Homo sapiens: one gene and its partners. The protein of the gene in region 2 purifies or fractionates together with the protein of the main gene of each other region. This does not show direct contact. Each region holds a gene or a part of one and is shown on either strand. Other genes may lie near its edges.

Region 1 (7,750 bases), on a different chromosome or scaffold from region 2:
TTGGCAAGACAGGAGGCTGCAGAAATGACCCTCCCCATAGGACTTCTAAAAAAAAAGTATTGTTTACATTTTATTTATTTGTGTTTTTAAATTGATATATCATAGTTACATATATTTTGGGGGTATGTGTGATACATGTATACAATGTGTAATGATGAAATTAGGGTGATAGAGGTATCCATCACTTCAAACATTTTTCTTTGTGTTGAAAACATTCTAATTCTTCTCTTCTAGCTATTTTGAAATATGCAATAAATTATTGTTAACTATAATTTCCCTACTGTGTTATCAAATACCAGACTTTATCCTTCTATCTAAGTGTTTTTTTTGTACTCATTAACCAACTTCTCTTCCTCCCCCTCCTCTCCATAGGACTTACAATCATTGTGTTGAACTCAAGATCATCCAGCTCCAACAATTTTCTTTCCTTTCCTCCTTTGCAGTTCTAGCTGCTCAATTATTATTTTGGCAACCTAAAAATCACATTAATAAAGAGATGCTAGACCAAAAGAACCCTGAAAGTTAATAAAGAAAAAAAAAGAAAGAAAAAACAAAATAAAGTGATGCTAGACCTCTGATAATGACTCCCATTTCTTCCAGCTAGTCATTACATTTACAGAGAGAGGTTCTTTTTTTTTTTTTTTTTTTTTTTTTTTTTTTTTTTTTTTTTTAATGAGATGGAGTCTCTGTTGCCCAGGCTGGAGTGCAGTGGCGCAATCTCGGCTCACTGCAAGCTCCGCCTCCTTGGTTCAGGCAATTCTCCTGCCTCAGCCTCCCAAGTAGCTGGGATTACAGGCGCCCAGCACCATGCCCAGCTATTTTTTTTTGTACTTTTACTAGAGACAGGGTTTCGCCATGTTGGCCAGGCTGCTCTCAAACTCCTGACCTCAGGTGGTCCACCTGCCTCAGCCTCCCAAAGTGCTGGGATTACAGGCGTGAGCCACAGTGCCTGACAAGATTTATAGAGAGAGGGTCTAAATTCATTCCTGCACATCTCTTCCTTTTGGGGAGCTCTGTGGTTCTGCTAAAACAACAACAAAAAACTATGTATTTTTCTTCTCCTTAAATGGTTTATTCCTCTGATTGTATACAAGCAAACACACATGCTTTACAGATGAGCAACTTTATTAGGTTTAATCCTCCAACAAGCTGCCTTCCACACTTCAGGGTTTCGTGTGTGTGTGTGTGTGTGTGTGTGTACACTTCATAGGAAACCTGACTCTGCCCAGGGTTAGCTCTGGGAAAAGTTGCTGTGGGAGTGGCTGAAGGTGGCAGAGGCCTGGAAGGTAAGACAACGGAGACCCTGTCTCTAAATAAATAAGTAAATAGAGACCTAACAACTAATTTATTGTGAATTTATTATGTACCAGGAACTGTACAGGAGATTGTGGATAAAGAAATGAAAAGACATCATCCTTAATCTTGAAAAGCTCAACGTTGGCCTGGCTTGGGCGCTCACACCTGTAATCCCAGCACTTTGGAAGGCCAAGGTGGGCGGATCACCTGAGGTCAAGAGTTTGAGACCAGCCTGACCAACATGGTGAAACCCTGTCTCTACTAAAAATGTAAATATTAGCTGGGCATAGTGGAACACGCCTGTAGTCCCAGCTGCTTGGGAAGCTGAGGCAAGAGAATCGCTTGAACCCAGCAGGTGGAGGTTGCAATGAGCTGAGATCGCACCACTACACTCCAGCCTGGGCAACAGAGTGAGACTCTGTCTCAAAAAAAAAAAAAAAAAAAAAAAGAAAAGAAAAAAAAAAAACAGAAAAGCTCAAGGCCTAAGAGATAATAAACCAATAACAATAATACAACACTAGTGAGGAATACATAGTGCACTGTGGTAACAGAGGAGAATGCGGGTATGTATAGAGAATGTTGAAATAGCATTACATTTTCTTATCTTTTCTTTTCTTTTTTTTTGAGACTGAGTTGCGCTCTGTCACCCAGGCTGGAGTGCAGTGGTGCGATCTCAGCTCACTGCAACCTCTGCCTTGTGGGTTCAGGCAATTCTCTGCCTCAGCCTCTCGAAGAGTTGGGATAACAGGCACCCACCACCACGCCCGGCTAATTTTTGTATTTTTAGTAGAGACAGGGTTTCACCATCTTGGCCAGGGTGGTTTCGATCTCCTGACCTGCTGATCCATCTGTCTTGGCCTCCCAAAGTGCTGGGATTACAGGTGTGAGCCACCGCACACGGCTAAATTTTCTTTCATTCTTCTTTTGAACTGGAGATTACTTTTTGTTTGTTTGTTTTTTTAATGAGACAGAGTCTCGCTCTGTCACCCACGCTGGAGTGCAGTGGCGGGATCTCGGCTCACCGCAAGCTCTGCCTCACTAAATACTACATAATATCATGATAAATGCTTTTAAACTTTATATCAAATTTCTCATGTGTTTCAGTTGCAGTCAAATCCAGGGTATCCCTAGGGTGACCCCAGTGAGTCCCACTCCCTGGTGTTCATGTCTTGTATCTTCTCCTCCCCTCCAGTGAGGGTGGCACCTGTGACTTGATCTAACCAATGGCATAAGGCAAAGTCTATGGAAAGTCACTGCCATAATTTTTTAAGATTATTTAAGATTATTTAAGATTAACATTATTTAAGATTCTGTTTTAGCAGACTGGAATTTAACTCGTTGCTGGCTTGATGAAGTAAGGAGCTATGTTGAGAAATCCCATGTGGCAAGAAGCCACAGGCAGCCTCTAGGACCTGTGGGTGGCCTCCCGGACACACGCCATCCTTACTGAGACTGTGTCCTTCTTACACTTTTGTTATTAAAATGGTCTTGTTACTGGAAAGTGGTCCCCAATCAGACCCAAGAGAGGGTTCTTGGATCTTAAGCAAGAAAGAATTTGAGGTGAGTCCATAAGTTTCGTAAAGTGAAAGCAAGCTTATTAAGAAAGTAAAGGAATGAAAGAATGGCTACTGCATAGGCAGAGCGGCACCGAGGGCTGCTGGTTGCCCATTTTTATCGCTATTTGTTCATGTATTTTTTGAGACTGATTCTTGCTCTGTTGCCCAGGCTGAAGTGCAGCGGCTTGATCTCAGCTCACTGTAATCTCTGCCTCCCAGATTCAAGTGATTCTCCTGCCTCAGCCTCCCAAGTAGCGGGGACTACAGGTGCCCACCACCACGCCTGGTTAAGTTTTGTATTTTTAGTAGAGATGGGGTTTCACCACGTTGGCCCGTCTGGTCTTGAACTTCTGACCTCGGGTGATCCACCTGCCTCGGCCTCCCAAAATGCTGATTACAGGCGTGAGCCACCAAGCCCAGCCTATTTATTGATTATATGCTAAACACGGAGCGGATTACTTACGCCTCTCCTTTTTAGACCATATAGAGTAATTTCCTGATGTTGCCATGGCATTTGTGGCGCCAGTGGGAGTGTAGCAGTGAGGACGACCAGAGGTCAAACTCATTGCCATCTTGGTTTTGTGGGTCTTGACTGGCTTCTTTACTGCAATCTGTTTTATCAGCAACATCCTTATGACCTGTATTTTGTGCTGACCTCATCCTGTGATTTAGATGGCCTGACCCTCGGGAATGCAGCCTAGCAGATCTCAGCCTTATTTTACCCAGCCACTATTCAAGATGGGGTTGCTCTGGTTCAAATGCCTCTTGACAGTCTTTCTTTCCTTTTCTTTTTTCTTTTTCTTTTTTTTTTTTTGAGAGGTAGTTTTGGTTGTCACCCAGGCTGGAGGGCCACAGCATGATCTCGGCTCACTGCAACCTCCGCCTCCCGGGTTCAAGCGATTCTCCTGCCTCAGCCTCCCAAGTAGCTGGGATTACAGGCACCTGCTACCACGCCCGACTAATTTTTGTATTTTTAGTAGAGACGGGATTTCACTATGTTGGCCAGGCTGGTCTGGAACTCGCCCGCCTAGGCCGCCCAAAGTGCTGAGGTACAGGCGAGAGCCACCGCGCCCGGCCCGGCCGACAGTCTTTCTTCTATAATACGATACAAACTAGTAAAGATTTTCTTTTTCCCCTGGCGGAAAAGAGCTGTTAGGCTTCCAGATTTGTTTTTGTGGGTTATTAGACCTCTACTTTTCTTCTTGGTATTTTCCCTCCCTTATCAACTTTGTTTGTTGTCTCAAATAGGCAATGAGGAAGACACAGGTGTTTATTATTATTGGAATGCTCTTTCCATTTGGTCAGTGGTTTCTCAAAGCAGGAGGAATTCAAGTTCTGAGTTTCTAAAGTCAGGACCCGGTGCCGCACCCAACGTGGGCGTGGGGAGTGGCTAAGTCAGGGTCTGAGGGGCAGGGCCGGGGCCTGGCTGCGAGCTGGGGCCGGGGGACTCGGAGGAGCGGGGACCCAGCCCCGCCGCGCCGCCTGCAGCTTTCCCCAGCCTCCTCCCAGCAGAGGGGAGGCCCGACAGGGAGGGGTCCCATCCTCATGAACGGTCACAAACAGGGCGCTAGGGAAGCACGCCCGACCCCCGCGGTCCCCGCGCTCCAGGATTCGGCAGACTGCGCGCGTCCTGCCTCCCGCGGATCGCACTGGGTCCCAACAGGGTTCCCAGCTCCAGGCTGCGCCCATGAACAAGCCCAGCATTGCGGACGGGCGCGCGCAGACGCCAGCGTGGTGAAGACGCGGGGGCGCGCGCGCGGCGACGAGACTGCCAGGGGACGCTTCGCAACACCGAGAGTCTCAGCGTTTCTCGAGATAGGTGAGGCTGCGCGTTCCGGAACTGGTTTCCCGGAAGGAGCATGTCTGCGCCCGCGATCCGACCGGAAGTTGCACGCTGAGCCGCGGACACCATGCAGTCGGATGATGTGAGTCTCCTCCGGTTGTTCTTACACCCGGGGTTTGCGCAGGGAATTTTGCCCATTTTCGGACACTTAGAAAACGCGTACGCAGCGGGTCTGTTGCCTCGTGCCGCTCTGGATGTGAGGCTTCCGGAACCCCGATTTTCCAACATAGGTTCTCACGCGTGTCTAGCAGGGGTTTACTGCCCGCTGCCCCGGCCGGGTTGTGAGCACAGGACTCCGTCACCTCAGCCCATGGGGTCGATGTGTCCCGTCCTTCGTGCCTACCAATGCAGGACGTCGCGTCATGCTGTCAGCTGTCAGCTGTCAGCTCCGGACTTGGGGTGGGGGGCGGCCCGGGATTTGGCGAAGCTGACTCCAAGTTTAAGCGTCCTTCTCATCCATGTGCGCGTTACTCTTCCATCTGCGTTTCCTGTGTAGGCTTTTCTTTACATTTGCTCTACTTCTGCCTAAGTCATAATTTCGGAAGTATCCTAGATTCATTCATTGAGTTTTTTGTTGGAGAAATAACAGTGTGCTTACAGTGTGCCAGGCATTGTGGTAATTATTGAGGATTTGGTTAACCAGAAAAAATGTCCCACCTCTCCTGGAACACTGATGGGGGAGACACAGTAAACAAGTGAACAAATAAGTTAACAATTACACTATATAATCATACTATGAAAGAAAGACCAGAGATGATGAAGGACACTTCAGATAGGGTTACTCAGGGAAGGTTTCTCTGAACAGAAGATGTTTGAGTTGAGATCTAAAAGATAAGAATAAGCCAGTCACTGAGGAGCTGAGGAAAAAGCAATCCAGGCAGTAGGAACAGTAAAGTACAAAGAGTTGAAGATATGAGAGAATGAATATAAGGGTCATCAAAGTGACAATGTAAGACAGGTAATGAAATTAGATATGCTTGCCAGGGCGAGGTCATGCAGAATCTTGTAGGAAGTGTTTTTTAGGCCTTTTAATGATCTATGTTTGTGAAAAGTTGTCTAGTTGCTGTGTGAAGGACTTTTGGAGGGAAAAAATGAAAGCAAGGAGACTAGGGTATGACAAAGGTTGCTTCAAGCCAGACACAGTGGCTCATGCCTGTAATCCCAACGCTTTGGGAGGCTGGGGCTGGAGGATCGCTTGAGGCCAGGAGTTCGATTCCAGCCTAGGCAATAAAGTGAGACTCCATCTCTACAAAAAATAAAAAATTAGCTGGGCGCGGTGGTGTTCGCCTGAGGTCCCAGTTACTTCGAAGGCTGAGGCAGAAGGACTACTTGAGCCGAAAAGTCCGAGGCTGCAGTGAGCTATGATGGCACCACTGCACTCCAGCCTGGGTGACAGAGAGACCCTATCTCTAAAGTAAATAAATTTTTTTAAAAACGAAAGTGGCTTCGCCTAAGGTAGTAATTTAATGGTGGAGATGAAAAGAAATTGATGAATTTGAGACCTTTTACGTCAGTATAATTGACAAGACTTTGGTGATGGATTAAGTGAAGAAGAAAAGGAAGAAATCAAAGGATTTGGGATATAAATACATAGTTAAATGGTGATTTTATTTATTGAAGTGGGGGAACTCTAGGGAAGACTGTTCTTACGAGGGATGTGGAATTGAGAACTCCTTGTGGATATGTTAATATTTATGTTGCCTTTTAGATATTGAAGAGATGTCATATAAAAATCTGGTGCTCAGGAAAGAAGTCTGACCAGAAAATAACAATTTAGGAGTCATCCATTTAGAGATGATACTTAAAGCCACAAGCCTAAAAGAGCTCCCTTATTCTTCTTACCTGTTTCCTACCATCCCCCACCAGACACACCTATAAAATTCTTAAAGTGTGTTTTATTCTTTTGCCCTCTTCATATTTTTCCTTTAACAGTGGTAAAGCTTTTTTTTACCCCAGTTCCTCAAGGCAGCGCACTCAAAGGCTGTCATACTCTTACGCATGCTATGTGGCCTTTAGACCTGCTATTTTGTGATACTTTGTTTACATATCTTTCCCCTAACTAGATAGACGAAACTCTTTAAAGAGTATACTTTCTTTCATTCAGCAAATACTTAAGTGGCTACTGTGTGTCAGGACTTGGAGATGTCAGTGCCTTACATAAATTAAGTATATAATGCTGAATGAATAAAGAGCACATTAAGTACAGGAGGATAGCAGTAGATAGTTTTCTTTGCCCTCAATGAGATAAAATTATGGTATGTATATCTAAAAATCTAATACCATGAAGCCTTTTTTTTTTTTTTGGAGATGGATTCTCACTCTGTCGCCCAGGCTGGAGTGCAGTGGCGTGATCTCGGCTTACCGCAACTTCTGCCTCCTGGGTTCAAGCGATTCTCCTGCCTCAGCCTCTCAAGTAGCTGGGATTACAGGCACCTGCCACCACACCTGGCTAATTTTTCTATTAGTAGAGATGGGGTTTCACCATGTTGGCCAGGCTGGCCTCAAACTCCCAACCTCAAGTGATCCGCCTGCCTTGGCACTCAAAGTGCTGGGATTACAGGTGTGAGCCACTACACCCGGCCCATGAGAGCCTTTAATAATGGATAATGAACATAAGTAAAAAGGGAAAGTTACGAAGTATATAAAATGTGATTTCACAGAGTATGTCAAAAAAAGTCTGGAAAAATATTTACAGAATAGTAATGAAATTTTATCTCTGGGTAATGGAGTTATGATTATTGCTCATCTGTATTTAGCTTTTCTATAAGAATCTGCTGGGCTTTTTTGTTTTGTTTTGTTTTGTTTTGAGACGGAGTTTCACTCTTGTTGTCCAGGCTGGAGCGCAATGGCACAATCTCGGCTCACCGCAACCTCCCTCTCCTGGGTTCAAGCGATTCTCCTGCCCCAGCCTCCCGAGTAGCTAGGATTACAGGCATGCGCCACCATGCCCAGCTAATTTTGTATTTTTAATATAAACAGGGTTTCTCCATGTTAATCAGGCTGGTCTCAAACTCCTCACCTCAGGTGATCCGCCCAACTCAGCCTCCCAAAGTGC
Region 2 (7,021 bases):
TCTCAGCTCCCCTGACGCCCCTGGTACTCTTGCTCCTTCAGCAACGCCTCACTCCAAAGCTGTTCCATGAAGTGGTACAGGCGTTCCGAGCAGCTGTGGCCACCACCCGAGGGGACCAGGAAAGTGCTGAGGCCAACAAATTCCAGGTCACGGACAGTGCTGGTGAGCTTGGGGGGAGCCTGGCATCCAGGCTGTCTGTTGCGTTCTCTGTCCCGTGAGTACATCCAGGCCTTTTCGTTGCAGCATTCAATGCTCTGGTTACCTTCTGCATCAGAGACCTCATTGGCTGTCTCCAGAAGCTGCTGTTTGGAAAGGTGGCAAAGGATAGCAGCAGGTAAGAGGGGAGGGGGTGAAGGGGGGTAGGGTGGAAGGTGGGTCGGGACCACACACAGGAGAAGCCAGAGGCCTTGTGGCTAGGACAGAGACATGGCAACAGAGCCAGCGTCTTCTTGGGGACCCTGAGAAGGCAGCGGGGCACGAGGGACCGTTGGGAGAGGCTGGGCACTTGGGGCCAGTTGGAGCGGCCCCACCTTCTTTCCTTCCTGAAAAGGGAAGTTGTCTGCTCAGAGTCTCAGAAGGTGTGGCGTGTGCAGCTGCCTTTGCTCTCAGATTTTCCCAGGTTAGGGTTCTTGCTCTATTTCCCTTTGTAAGAACTTGTAAGTCCTGTCCATACTCCTTGATCTCTGCACTATGACTGGCCTGTTTCCTGGAGCTGTGTGTGTCTGTAGACAGGGGCCTCATCAATGCTGAGAACCTGAGGGCCTCAACTTCCCCTTTAGAGAAAGATTGGGCAGAGAAGGCCGTGGAAGGTTTTCAGAGAAGAGAGACGCACGGCCAAGCATTTGGTAGAGCATGGAGCACGTTGGGGTTCCGGGGCTGTGCAGCCATGTGACCTTGAGGCAGTGGAGGCCTAGAGTTGGAACTGCCCCAGGACACCTTCAAAGGAAGAAAGGAGACCCACAGGAGAGGTCTCGCCGACAGCGGCTCAGGAGACAGGGGCACTGTTGCTGGTGGTAGTGGTCGGGGCTGGACGGATAGAACAGAGCCATGTCCACATGGAGGCAGTGCTGTCCGAAGGGGACAAGGAAGCTGGCAGATGGGGGTGGAGGGACAGGCAGCGATTGGGAGGCAGCACGCACTGCAGCCTGAGCCACCAGGTCAGGGACCCCTGTCGAGGCAGCAGCTGTACCGGAGGGAGTCAGGCCGTGGGGAGCAGAGCTGCCTCCTGGGTCTGGGTGGGCAGCTGCAGGTGCCCAGCAGCCAGTGTCAGCACAGGTGTGAGGAGGGTCGAGGACGGGGGGCCTTTCTGGGGCCCTGCCCTTTGTCCTTCCCATGCTTCAGCAGATTTTAGTGAGCGCCTACTGCGTGGGCTCTGGTAAATGTTTTGTTTTGTTTTGTTTTGTTTGTTTGGTTTTTGGTTTTTTTTTTTCCTTACGAGATAGGATCTTGCTCTGTCGCCCAGGCTGGAATGCAGTGATCATAGCTCACTGCGACACGTACCTTCTGGATTCAAGTGATTCTCTCACCTTAGCCTCCCAAGTAACTGGGACTCCGCCACCAGGCCTGGATAATATTTTGTATATTTTTGTAGAGACGGGGTCTCACTGTGTTGTTCAGGCTGGTCTCAAACTCCTGGGCTTGGAGTTTGATCCTCCTGCCTTGGCCTCCCAAAGTGCAGTGAGTACTGGCATGAGTCTCCACACCTGCCCTCTGATTTTCTTTTCTTTGTGCAGCAAATGTGGGCCAAAGGAAACCAGTCTGCGGCAGTTGGTGGTGCCTGGGCGACCCCAGAGGTGCTGAGTACCAGCTGCTGGGCTTAGGGACCTCGTGTGGTCTCACGGTGGGGATGTGATCAAGGGGACCTAGAAAAGGTTTATGTCTGAGAGGGAGTTGGAGGCTGGGACTTCCGGGGACTCTTAGGGCGGTGGCCAACCCTGGGCAGGGCAGACAGGAGTTCAAGGCCACTGAAGGAGGAGCTAATGCACTTGAGAGGGTCCTCCTAAGCCCCTGTGTCTGTCCAGCTGTAAGGGGCCCTGAGCTTTTTTGAGTGGAGAGACGGGGGGTCTCTGCAGAGTCGTAGAGGCTATGCTGGCCAGGGCACGCGCCAACATGCTGAGCAGCCTCGCGTCCGAGCCGTGGGGCCTCCCAGCCAGGGGTGGGTGGTCTCTCTGCAGGATGCTGCAGCCGTCCAGCAGCCCGCTCTGGGGGAAGCTTCGTGTGGACATCAAGGCTTACCTGGGCTCGGCCATACAGGTGCTATTCTGGTGGGGAGGGCACGGGGGCCTGGCTGTATCTGGTGGTCGGTCCTTTTTTGTATCCCAGAATACATGGGTTTGGGGCTTCACTGTCCCCTCCTGCCCCCAGCTGGTGTCCTGTCTGTCGGAGACGACGGTGTTGGCGGCCGTGCTGCGGCACATCAGCGTGCTGGTGCCCTGCTTCCTGACCTTCCCCAAGCAGTGCCGCATGCTGCTCAAGGTTCGTGGCCCAGTCCCCTCCCTGTGTCTGTCATGGGGTCGGGGGGCCACACGGCTACCCCCACCACATCCCACTCCTGGCCAGGGCACAGGTGGTGCCCACACTCCACTGGCTCCGCTTGGCTAGAGAGGCCACAGAAGCACCTGGCCCCCACCCCCACCTGGGGTTTCTGTCTCAGGCAGTCCCTGCCTGCCCGGGCAGCGCGGCTCAGTCCGTGAGCAAAGCCACGGTGAGGTATCTTCTTCCCGGTGTGATCTCACATACGTCGGCGTGTCTGACGTGGTAAACTTTTGTGGTCCTCTTCTCACAAGGAGCAACACACCTGTTCTGTTCACTTCTGTAACTGAGCACCTAACTCACGGCTCCCCCGAGGTGCTTTGGGAAGAGCTGGTGGCCATGGGAGCCTTTGCCTGGCTGGGGAGGGCTGTGCTGGCCCTGGGGCATCCCTGCTGAGGAGGCTGGGGGGCCACCAGTGACGTCTGACCTTCTGCAGAGAATGGTGATCGTATGGAGCACTGGGGAAGAGTCTCTGCGGGTGCTGGCTTTCCTGGTCCTCAGCAGAGTCTGCCGGCACAAGAAGGACACTTTCCTTGGCCCCGTCCTCAAGGTAGTGGTGGGCCCTGCGTCTGTGTCCCTCAGCATCTGCATTGGAAATCTCGGCCTAAGGGCAGGGCGGGCTGCCTTTGTGGTTGGTGCCCCTCACTGGACCCTCACTGCAGCTCTGAGCAGACCTGGGCCCTTGGATCACGAATGTCTCACAGAGCACCTGGGGGTGGTGGGCAGGGAAGAGAGCCCTCGGCCTTCTCAGGGCCCCACCTGGACCCTGCTTCACACAGCTTCCCCAGGGGAGGGCCTCTCTGGCTGGAGGAGGACACTGGGTGTTGGGACCTGAGGCCATGGCCAGGGTACAGTCCTACTGCCCGTCCCCAAGCCATGGGTGGCCTGCATGTGGGGACCCTCAGCCCCCAGAGGGGCCCAGTGTGCAGCAGGAGCTTCTGCCCCAGCTTCTCCCAGGCCTGAGGCTGGTGGGCACTTGGGGGTGGGGGCTGTGCAAGGGGCTACGGCTCTTCCTCGAGGCCCAGCTCTGAGGGAAAGGCCCAGGTGTTCACAGGGGCCCTGGAGTGGGCGGTGGAGGTGCATGGCCCTGATCCCAGGTGGCTCTGACCCGGGTCTCTCCGCAGCAAATGTACATCACGTATGTGAGGAACTGCAAGTTCACCTCGCCTGGTGCCCTCCCCTTCATCAGTTTCATGCAGTGGACCTTGACGGAGCTGCTGGCCCTGGAGCCGGGTGTGGCCTACCAGCACGCCTTCCTCTACATCCGCCAGCTCGCCATACACCTGCGCAACGCCATGACCACTCGCAAGAAGGTGTGTGGTGGGGCCCTTCCAGGCTCATGCTGGGCATGGGGTGGGGCAGCCCAGGTGCCCGACCCAAGGCAGGGCCTGGGGCCTCCCCGAAGCCCCTGTCTGGAGACAGCCCAGCACCCTGGTGCAGTCGGTCCTTGCAGGTGGGGGAAGGGTGGATGGGTTGAGACCCCGTGTGCAAGATGAGGAAATGATTCCTGTGCCGGCCCAGGAGGAACGTGCATCAGCCTGACTTGTCAGCCTGGCCAGTAGCTGACGTGGTTCTCTCTGACCAGGAAACATACCAGTCTGTGTACAACTGGCAGTATGTGCACTGCCTCTTCCTGTGGTGCCGGGTCCTGAGCACTGCGGGCCCCAGCGAAGCCCTCCAGCCCTTGGTCTACCCCCTTGCCCAAGTCATCATTGGCTGTATCAAGTGAGTTGTGGGGTGGGCAGGGTTGTGCGGGAGGGTCAGGAGAAGCAAATTTGCTGGGACTGTGTGGGCGGTGCCTCTGGCGTTCAGGGCCTTGGGGCCTGAGTCTGTGTCCTGGCCGTCCCTGAGGAAGGGCTGGGGTCCCTGTACCTGCTACGGGGAGATGCTCTGGATTCTGGAGAGCTAGGGCTGGTGGGCACCTGTGACATGAGCTCCTCCAACAGCGGTTTAGCCGCCTCGGGTGCCACCCAGCGTGTGTTCTGGGGGCTTGTGTGCAGTTTGCAGTGAGTTTGGTTCATTACGTGGGGTTCTTGGGTGGAGCACATCTGATGCAGTGAACTGCATTTTGGGTGTGAGCGCTTAGGAGGGTCCAGGCACGGTAGGGGCTGCAGCAGGAAAAGGTGGGAGCAGTACTGTGGCCTCTTTGGCCAGGAGGGGGCATCTGTCTGGCTGAGCCTTAGAAACTCAAGGCTGGGAAGGGAGGTGGGAAGTCCAAGGGAAGAAGTAGGAAAGGCGGGAACAGGGAGGAGAGCAGGCAGGAACAGATGACCCCTGCCACCGTGTTGAAATAAAGCTGAAAGCTGGGTAAGGTACCTGCAGCCCCATAGCTGGGCAAGGGGTGCAGGTCCCTGGGGTTCAGACGTGCCTTGTCCTGCTTTAGGGGTCTGATGTCGGTGAGTGGGGGAGGAGGTCCAAGACAGCAGGGGGAGGGGCAGGGGCTGCCAGAGCCGGGGCCTCTGCTCACTCGGCCTTCCCACCCCCAGGCTCATCCCCACTGCCCGCTTCTACCCGCTGCGAATGCACTGCATCCGTGCCCTGACGCTGCTCTCGGGGAGCTCGGGGGCCTTCATCCCGGTGCTGCCTTTCATCCTGGAGGTGAGTGAGGCTGTGGTGGGCGTGTGGCACCTCTGCCTGCTCCTGTAGGGAGCATCTGCTGCTCCGGGCGTCTGTGCTGAGTTGTCCGGCGACTTCCCGGAGCCCTGGCCGCCTCCTTGTCACGGGTGTCACGAGGACAGTGCTCCTCCGTGTGCTGGGGGCAGTGTTGGGGAACGTGGGACCACTGGGGATGAAGGCGGCTGCTGCTAGGGCTGTGCTTGAGGATGCCGGGACCTGACCCTGTAGGTGCTTGCCCAAGACTGGAGTAGGCAGGAGGCGAGATGGGCCAAAACCCAAGTCTGATTGCTGAACTGTACACTGAACAGTGCCCTGCCCTGACAGTTGTGTGCATGTGTATGCATTTGTATGGGGGATGTGTGTACATCTGGGTGGGTGCGTTTGTCTGTGCATGCATGCGTGTGTGTGCACCATCTGGGTGCATGGGTCTGTAAATCTGTGTGTGTGTGCATATCAGTTCATGTGTGCATCTGTATGTGTGTATGCACGTGTATCCATGAATGCCTGTGTGCCTGCAGGTGTGTGCATCTGTGCGTGTGTACACCTGTGTGTATGCATGTGTGTACCTTTGCGTGTACCTTTGCGTGTGTGCACCTGTGCATGTGTCTTTGTATACCAGTGTGTACCTGTGTGTACCTGTATGCATGCACATGCGTGTGTACCTGTGTGCACCTGTCTGCATGTGTGTACCTGTGCGTGTGTGCACCTGTGTGCATGCATTTGCGTCTGCATGTGTCTACCTGTGCATGCATGAACCTTTGCATGTGTGCATCTGTGTGCATGCATGTGTGTCTGCGTGCATCTATGTACCTGTGTGCACCTATGTGCATACACACGTGTCTGTGTGCACTTGTGTGCATGCATTTGCATCTGCATGTGTGTACTGTGCGTGTGTACCTGTGCGTGTACCTGTACACTTGGGTGCATGCATGCACGTCTGCTTGTGTGTGCCTGTGCGTGTGTGCACCTGTGTGCATGTACGTGCGTCTACGTGTGTGCCTGTGCATGTGTGCGCCTGTGTGTACCTGTGTGTATGCATCTTTGCACGTGCACATGCCACTCAGGTAGGGAAAGATTGGAGTCCGAAGTTTCAACTTTCAGTGGGTGGGTTAGGCCCCACCCCGCTGTAAATTTAGGAATTCACGATCTCCACCCTGTTTATCTAATGAGTTCTCAGCCTCATGAAGGCCCAGAGTCGTGTCACAGCTGTCCTTGGGGCTGGGTCCCCAGGTTGCTGGGTCCAGAAGGTATGGAAGCCCCAGGCACGTTCTGATTCCCCTTCCACTGAGGCAGGGATGCTGAACATCTTTAGGAAGCCATGTTCACTCCCATGGCAGCCAGCAGTGGTCTCTGATTGCCCAGCCCTTGGCCTGGCCCCTGTGTCTGTGGGCCTCCAGCTCTGCTGCCCAGCTCCAGGCATGCTTTGTGTCTGTTTCCCTTGTCCAATCTCCTTGGCTACGTGCTTTCTTACTCTCTTGCAGTGTCTGTTTCTTCACTTGTGCACTGCCCTGGTTCACTGCAGCCGCACCCTGTAGGCCCCTCTCACGCAGGGATGCAGGCCTCTCCTCTCCGGAAAAAGCAAACCCTAAAAGCTAAAACAAAGCCCTCAGCTGTAGGCCGTGCCTGCCCTTCCCCGGTGCCTGGACAGGAAGCCAGTCGCCTGCCCATACTTTTGGCCCAGGCTAGAGAAGGGCAGTGTCCTCCCAGAGGTTCATCAGTACCAGGGCGTTTTCCCATCTGGACCTGAGCTCAGCTGTCTGGCAGCCACCCCTGCTGAGTGGGGTGTCTTGCTGGGGCCTCCACCCTTGGGCCCCCCATAATCTGCTTCTGTCCTCTGGTGCCCCAGCATGTACCCTGGATCTCTCTGGTTCAC
Region 3 (7,578 bases), about 230 Mb from region 2:
AACCCCATCTCTACCAAAAAAATACAAAAATTAGCTGGGTGTGGTGGTGGGCGCCTGTAATCCCAGCTACTCAGGAGGCTGAGGCAGGAGAATCGCTTGAACCCAGAGGCGGAGGTTGCAGTGAGCAAAAATTGCACTGTTGCTCTCCAGCCTGGGCGACAACAGTGAAACGCCATCTCAAAACAAAAAAAAAAAACAAAAAAAAACGAGGGATAAGGGAAAGAGGCGAACGTGGATGGATCTGACGGCACAGTCCCTAAAAAGGCAGAACATATGTGGTACACACAGCACCCAGGTGGTTGAGTTAATCTTGGACAAGAGGGAAGACACTCTGCTCTAAGAAAGAGGGGAAGAAATATGGCTGTGTACAGATGCATTAAGTTTAAATAGGACAAAAAGTAGCAGTTCCCAACTGTCAGTGATTAACAGCTCCAGAACTGGTACAAAGGTCTTCAGTTGAAATGAGAAAAGGGAAAAGGAAATAAGGGGCTTGAGGAGAGTGGCAAAGAAGAGAGGAATGAAGACTGTTAGCTAGGTACACGTGATGGGATCACTATTTGCATCTTGATTCAAATACACTGTTAAACAACGTTATGCTGGCCGGGCATGGTGGGTCATGCCTGTAATCCTAGCACTTGGGGAGACGGAGGTAGGAGGATGGTTTGAGCCCAGGAGTTCAGGACTAGCCTGGGCAACATAGCAAGACCCTGTTTCTATTTTTTTACTAAAAAAAAAAAAAAAATGCTGACTGGATCACTTGAGTCCAGCAGTTTGCGACCAGCCTGGGCAACATGGCAAAATCCCGTCTCTACAAAACATACAAAAATTAGCTGGGCATGGTGGGGCATGCCTATAGTCTAAGCAACACAGGAGGCTGAGGTGGGCGGCTGGATTGAGTCTGGGAAGCAAAGATTGCAGTGAGCCGCAATCGCACCACTGCACTCCAACCTGGGTGACAGAGCCAGACCTTGTCTCAAAAAAAAAAAAAAAAAGTTAATGAGGGAAATGAATAAATTTAAGAACACCAAACTCGGCCAGGTGTGATGGCTCACGTATGTAATCCCAGCACCTTGGGAGGCGGAGGCAAGTGGATCATGAGGTCAAGAGTTCGAGACCAGACTGGTCAATATGGTGACACCCCGTCTCTACTAAGAATACAAAAATCAGCTGGGTGTGATGGCGCGCCCATAGTCCCAGCTGCTCAGTAGGCTGAGGCAGAAGAATCACTTGAACCCAGGAGGCGGAGGTTGCAGTGAGTCAAGATTGCGCCACTGCACTCCAGCCTTGGCGACAGAGTGAGACTCCAGCTCAAAAAAAAAAAAAAAAATTTTTTTTTTAAAAAGCAAACCAGGCCAGGTGCAGTGGCTCATGCCTATAATCCCTGCACTTTAGGAGGCTGAGGTGGGTGGATCACCTGAGGTCAGGAGTTCAAGACCAACCTGGCCAACATGATGAAACTCTGTCTCTACTAAAAACACAAAAAATTAACCGGGCATGGTGGCACCTGTAATCTCAGCTCCACGGGAGGCCTGAGGCAGGAAAAATCACTTAAACCCGGGAGGTGGAGGTTGCAGTGAGCTGAGATCAGGCCACTGCACTCCAGTCTGGACAAAAAGAGCAAAACTCCGTCTCAAAAAAAAAAAAAGAAACGCAAACCAAATTCTTTTATATACATGCTGAAATATTTATAGATGAAACATAAATTTTCATTTTGCTTCCAAATAATGAGGTGGTAGCTGGGCGAGGTGGCTCACACCTGTAATCTCAACACTTTCGGAGGCCGAGGTGGGCAGATCGCTTGAGGTCAGGAGTTCCAGACCTGCCTGGCCAACATGGTGAAACCCTGTCTCCACTAAAAATACAAAAATTAGCTGGGCATGGTGACGCAGGCCTGTAGTCCCACCTACTCAGGGCCGAGGCAGGAGAATCGCTTGAACCTGGGAAGCGGAGGTTGCAGTGAGCTGAGATCACTGCACTCTACTGCAGCCTGGGCGTGGCATCAAGACTCCATCTCAAAACAAACAAAAACAAATAATGAGGGGGTATATGAGTGGGGTAAAAATACAAAAAGGTTAGCCAAATATTAGTAATTGCTGATGCTGAGTACACGGGGTTTCTTAGCCTTTTCAACTTTTCTATATGTACTGGATTTTCCATAATAAAAGTTTTGAAAGAAAGTAGAAATATGAAATAAAACTGACGAATATTCCAAGTATAGGAATGTTAATTTACCATCTAATTTCTTTAACATCAAATAAGAGAATTTTACCAACCTGTCTGCCAACTTTTTTTCTGCGTTAGTGTGTTTCTTCTTCGCTTTCACTTTTTTGGCAGGTTCTTGCGAAAGTGGTCTTTCAATCTGGGATGTACTTTCTTCCTCCTCATTCCGTTTCGTTTTTTTGATGGTTTGCTTTTTAAAAGTTTGAAGTTATATTTGAGACCCCATACTTCTAGAATTCTGACCCTAAGCCATAATTCAGTCTTTCTAAATGAGAATCTCTTCTCTCTCACTGGTATGTAAGAGTCATGAAAGGTTACTTAAAATGAATCCTGTCTGCCCCCTTTAGAAATCACGCTTCACGCGGTAGGTAAGAAGATTGCTTTGTATGTAAGTGGTTCTAACGAGCTATTCGGGAAGAAAGCCCAGTGACTTACTTTAGGCACAGGCACGTACACGGGTTGAATCTGGGGCTCCAGAGAACTGAAGAGGGACGCCAGCCGACCGGTGCCACCTCTGGAATGGTGTTCGCCGCGAAATAAGCTACTGGCGACCTGTCCAAGCCTGTAGTCTTCCGGCGGACTCCCGCGAACGCCGTCGTCAGGATTCTCTCTAGAAATGGACGACAGAAACTCAGCCACGCCACGCACCACCGCTTCGCCAGCACGAGGGAACGTACAACATCCCTCCCCAGGTACTCGTGCCGCGCGCCACTCACCCCTCCTGGACACTTCTCTTTCTCTTCCGTTTGCTCATCCCTTCCAAGGCCATTCTTACTCCAAAGACTCCCAGACTGCAGCTGCGCGCCAGCTCGCACTTCCGGGTTCCGGGCACTTCCGCTCTCTGGCCACGCCCCCTCCCCTCCGGCAGTCGGCCGCCGGGCGGCGGCGAAGGGAGGCGCTGGGTGAGGGAGCAGGTTTGTCGCCGTCGGTTGGTGGTCCTCGCCGTTTCAGAAAAGCCTCATTTTGGGAGTGAAGGACGTCTTCTGGGAGTGGTTGAAGCCTGCAGTGTGAAGAATCAGCCAGGCTAGGAGCGGGGTGTCCACCCAAGCCGAGAGAGAAACACGTAGAATACTGACTTGTTGAAAAGGAGGGAGGGAGGTTTGGCAAGAAATGCGGTTAGGGGTGAACGCAGTGGGGTGTTTACAATTTGCTAATCGCTGTGAAGAGTACAAAGGAATTCTTTGTACTCTTCTTGCAACTTGTCTGAAACATGACATTATTCCAAAATAAAAACCACAACTCTAACGAGTCACGTCAACATACAATTCGAAAGATTGTAATGCGGACCTGCTATTCTACCTGGAAAAGTAGATACTTGGCATTCAAAACGCTTCAAGGTGTTCTCAGCCCGTCTTCCCAGACTCATCTCCCTCCAGCCCCTGACATTCTAGCCTGCTTTCTCCACTGCCTCTACAGTTGTTATTCCTGTCCCCTCTGTTGTAATTGCCCTCCTCTTTCCCCTTCTGCAAAATAATGTCCATCCTTCAAGGCCTACCTCAGATACTGTCTAACTTAGTATTTCTTTGCAGCCAGGTGCGGTGGCTCGCCTGTAATCCTAACACATTTGGAGGCCGAAGTGGGAGGATTGCGTGAGGACTAGGAGTTTGAACCAGCCTGGTCGATCTAGCGAGACTTATTCTCTACAGAAAAGAAATTAGACGGGCACCTTCGCGCTCGGCGCCTGTAGTCCCAGCACTTTGAGAGGCTCGGGCAAGAGGATCCCTTGAGCCCTGGAAGGTCGAGGCTGCAGTAAGCTGTGATCGCATCACTACACTCCAGCCTAAGCGGCAGACCCTGGCTCAAAAAAAAAAAAAAAAAAATTCTTTGCTATTTACAATAGGGATATTTTCCCAAGCCCCCATGGTACTTACTATAATCATTTTTGGTCTGCTTTAGTGTTAGTTACAGTCTCTTTAGATGTAAAGGCAAGACAGTAAGGATTATGTTTTATTCATCATGTATGCTGTGTCTCTATTAGCTGTACATAGTGAATATTTGTTAAATTGACTCTCAGGGTAATAAAAGATTACTAGTTAAATCATCCAATAGTTTGAGTGGCAAAATAGGATTTGACTTTGTTCTTATTTTCTTTCAGACAAGGTGTTGCTCTGTCACCCAGACTGGAGTGTAGTGGTGAGATCACGGCGCACTGCAGCCTTGACTTCCTGGGCTCAAGCCATCCTCCCACCACGGAGTAGCTGGAACTGCAAGCAGCAGCACCATGCCCAGCTAATTTTTTTTTTTTTTTTGGAGACAGAGTCTCGCTCTGTCGCCCAGGCTGGACTGCAGTGGCGCGATCTCAGCTCACTGCAACCTCCGCCTCCCGGGTTCAAGTGAGTCTCCTGCCTCAGCCTCCCAAGTAGCTGGGATTACAGGTGCATGCCACCATGCCCAGCTAATTTTTGTATTTTTTTAGTAGAGACCGGGTTTCACCATGTTAGCCAGGCTGGTCTCGAACCCCTGACCTTGTGATCCGCCCACCTCAGCCTCCCAAAGTGCTGGGAGTACAGGTGTGAGCCACCGCGCCTGGCCTTTTTTTTTTTTTTTTTTTTTAAATAGAGATTGGGGTTTCACTGTGTTTCCCAGGCCGGTCTTGAACTCCTGAGCTTGAGCAGTCCTCCTGCCTTGGCCTCCCAAAGGGTTGGAATTACAGGCGTGAGCCACTGCATCCAGCCAGGATTTGACTTTGAGTCTTTTGGGGACAGCCTAAGCTTTTTGAAAGCTACTCAACCAAGTTGACTGGGAATATATGTGACTTTTACTTCCCCCTTCAGAGAAATTTATGAAAAAAATCCACAATATTCAACTGCTCGGCCCTGGGTTTTGATTACTGGGCCCCTTATTTTGGTTTCCCATAATCTTGATCTTCTGGTATTTCACAAAGATGAAGAAAGCTTATCCATACATGCATGCGATACAACTCAAAAATCTGTTCTATCCAGTCCAGTGAAGAAATTATATTCTATATTTCTAGAATTATAGAATTCTATTCTGTGTATTTTTTGAGACGGAGTTTCACTCTTGTTGCCCAGGCTGGAGTGCAGTGGCACGATCTTGGCTCATTGCAACCTCCGCCTCCCAGGTTCAAGCGATTCTCCTGCCTCAGCCTCCCGAGTAGTTGGGATTACAGGCATGCACCACCATGCCTGGCTAATTTTATATTTTTAATAGAGACAGGGTTTCTCCATGTTGGTCGGGCTGGTCTCGAACTCCTGACCTCAGGTGATCCGCTCGCCTTGACCTCCCAACGTGCTGGGATTACAGGTATGACCCACTGTGCCCAGCTAGGTAGCAGATACTTATAGAAGAAAACAGACTGCGAAAGCAGCTGTGGTTGCAGATAGTTTTAAAATTATCTTCATTGCTGTTCAGTGCTGTTTTTAACCATTTAGAGATCACTTACTGCTTTGAGAGTTTTTTAAAATATGAGGACATGGTGGGACAAGGTGGCTCACGCCTATAATCCCAGCACTTTGGGAGACCAAGACGGAAGGAATGCAAGCCCAGGAGTTTCAGATCAGCGACTGCGCCATTTGCACTCCAGCCTGGGCAACAAGAGCGAAACTCCGTCTCAAAAAAACAAAAGGAGGCCGGGTGCGGTGGCTTACGCCTGTAATCCCAGCGCTTTGGGAGGCCGAGGTGGGTGGATCATCTGAGGTCAGAAGTTTGAGATCAGCCTGGCCAACATGGTGAAACCCCATCTCTACTAAAAATACAAAAATTAGCTAGGCATGGTGGCGGGCGCCTGTAATCCCAGCTAGTCGGGAGGCTGATGCAGGAGAACCACTTGAACCCGGGAGGCAGAGGTTGCAGTGAGCCAAGATGGCGCCATTATACTCCAGCCTGGGCGACAGAGCGAGATTCTGTCTAAAACAAAACAAAACAAACAAAAAAAAGAAATTAACAAGACCCCACTCTAAAGTTTTTTCAGTAGGAAAAAAAACGTTTTGGAGAACACCGTTAAGAAACGTATCATCTTGGGTGGGCGCGGTGGCTCATGCCTGTAATCCCAACACTTTGTGAGGTCAAGGCGGGCAGATTACGAGGTCAGGAGATCGAGACCATCCTGACTAACACGGTGAAACACCCCTCTCTACTAAAAATACAAAAAATTAGCTGGGTGCAGTGGCACGTGCCTGTAGTCCCAGCTACTCGGGAGGCTGAAGTAGGAGGATCACTTGAACCTGGGAGGCAGAAGTTGCAGTGAGCCAAGATTGCACCACTGCACTCCAGCCTGGGGCAACAGAGTGAGACTCCGTCTCAAAAAAAGAAAAAAAAGAAAAGAAAAACATACCATCTTAATATGTCAATTGTAAACTAACTTAGTAAAGTCTAGTTTAGGTGACCAGAAGTAGACATAGGTCAATTCTACTAATTCAATAAAATCCTCAAACCCTCTTAAGAAGGTAGGACGTAGAACAAGAAGGCAGGCGAGACAGAGAGGCACAAAGTCATAAATCTCGACTCCACCAAAATTTGGAATAATTCCCCTATTCAGCACTGTTTCTATAACATACTCAGTATGTGATATTAAGAGCTCCTCAAAAAACAGGGTTTCATGATTAGGTGGGATTGAAAACAGTAGGGTAAAGGAAGTTATTAGGCAGGTATCTCTTCACAGGCCTTCTCAAAGTTTTTAATATGCAAACACTGTGATTCTCTAAGAATGTGCTATACATAGATTTTCCAAAATATATTTGGTTATAAATTCCCAGAGCATTTCCAGGGACCAGTATTCTAGGAATTCATTTTGGGAAGCACCGTTCCACAGATTTAAAATATCATCCCTTAAACTAATTTTTGTGAAAATAAAGGGCCACCACAAAGATGCTTTAAAAAATATGTATTTAAGCTTTCTAGGCCTTAAAAAAGTTGATTTCCTTTCTCGTTTTTGTTTTTGTTTTTGTTTTTTTTTGAGACGGAGTTTCAATCTTGTTTCCCAGGCTGGAGTGCAATCTTGGCTCACTGCAACCTCCGCCTCCCAGGTTCAAGCGATTCTCCTGCCTCAGCCTCCCTAGTAGCTGGGATTACAGGCATGCGCCACCATGACCGGCTAATTTTGCATTTTTAGTAGAGACAGGGTTTCACCATGTTGGTCAGGCTGGTTTCGAACTCCTGACCTCAGGTGATCCACCCACCTCAACCTCCCAAAGTGCTGGGATTACAGGCATTAAGCCACCACGCCCGGCCTCTCTCTGTATTAAAGAAAGGTTTTCTTTTTTTTGAGGCGGAGTCTCGCTCTGTTGCCCAGGCTGGAGTGCAGTGGCACGATCTCGGCTTACTGCAAGCTCCGCCCCCCAGGTTCATGCCATTCTCCTGCCTCAACCTCTCGAGTAGCTGGGACTACAGGCGCCCACT

Evidence for each region. Proteins that work in one complex are often made in the same cells at the same time.
Region 1: the proteins of NOC2L (region 2) and MAK16 purify together in Homo sapiens (affinity purification with mass spectrometry; 2 studies listed by BioGRID and IntAct, with this or other methods). This does not show direct contact.
Region 3: the proteins of NOC2L (region 2) and RBM34 purify together in Homo sapiens (affinity purification with mass spectrometry; 2 studies listed by BioGRID and IntAct, with this or other methods). This does not show direct contact.

The regions. Positions count from the first base shown.
Region 1 is NC_000008.11:33,480,445-33,488,194, forward strand, and holds the start of MAK16 (protein MAK16 homolog), read left to right. Parts: upstream 1-4,737; 5' UTR 4,738-4,762; coding exon 4,763-4,777; intron 4,778-7,750.
Region 2 is NC_000001.11:949,236-956,256, reverse strand, and holds part of NOC2L (nucleolar complex protein 2 homolog), read left to right. Parts: intron 1-41; coding exon 42-162; intron 163-243; coding exon 244-334; intron 335-2,174; coding exon 2,175-2,253; intron 2,254-2,364; coding exon 2,365-2,475; intron 2,476-2,968; coding exon 2,969-3,082; intron 3,083-3,656; coding exon 3,657-3,845; intron 3,846-4,117; coding exon 4,118-4,257; intron 4,258-5,018; coding exon 5,019-5,130; intron 5,131-7,021.
Region 3 is NC_000001.11:235,158,238-235,165,815, forward strand, and holds the start of RBM34 (RNA-binding protein 34), read right to left. Parts: upstream 3,014-7,578; 5' UTR 2,990-3,013; coding exon 2,937-2,989; intron 2,831-2,936; coding exon 2,656-2,830; exon of another isoform or gene 2,411-2,655; coding exon 2,274-2,410; intron 2,265-2,273; exon of another isoform or gene 1-2,264.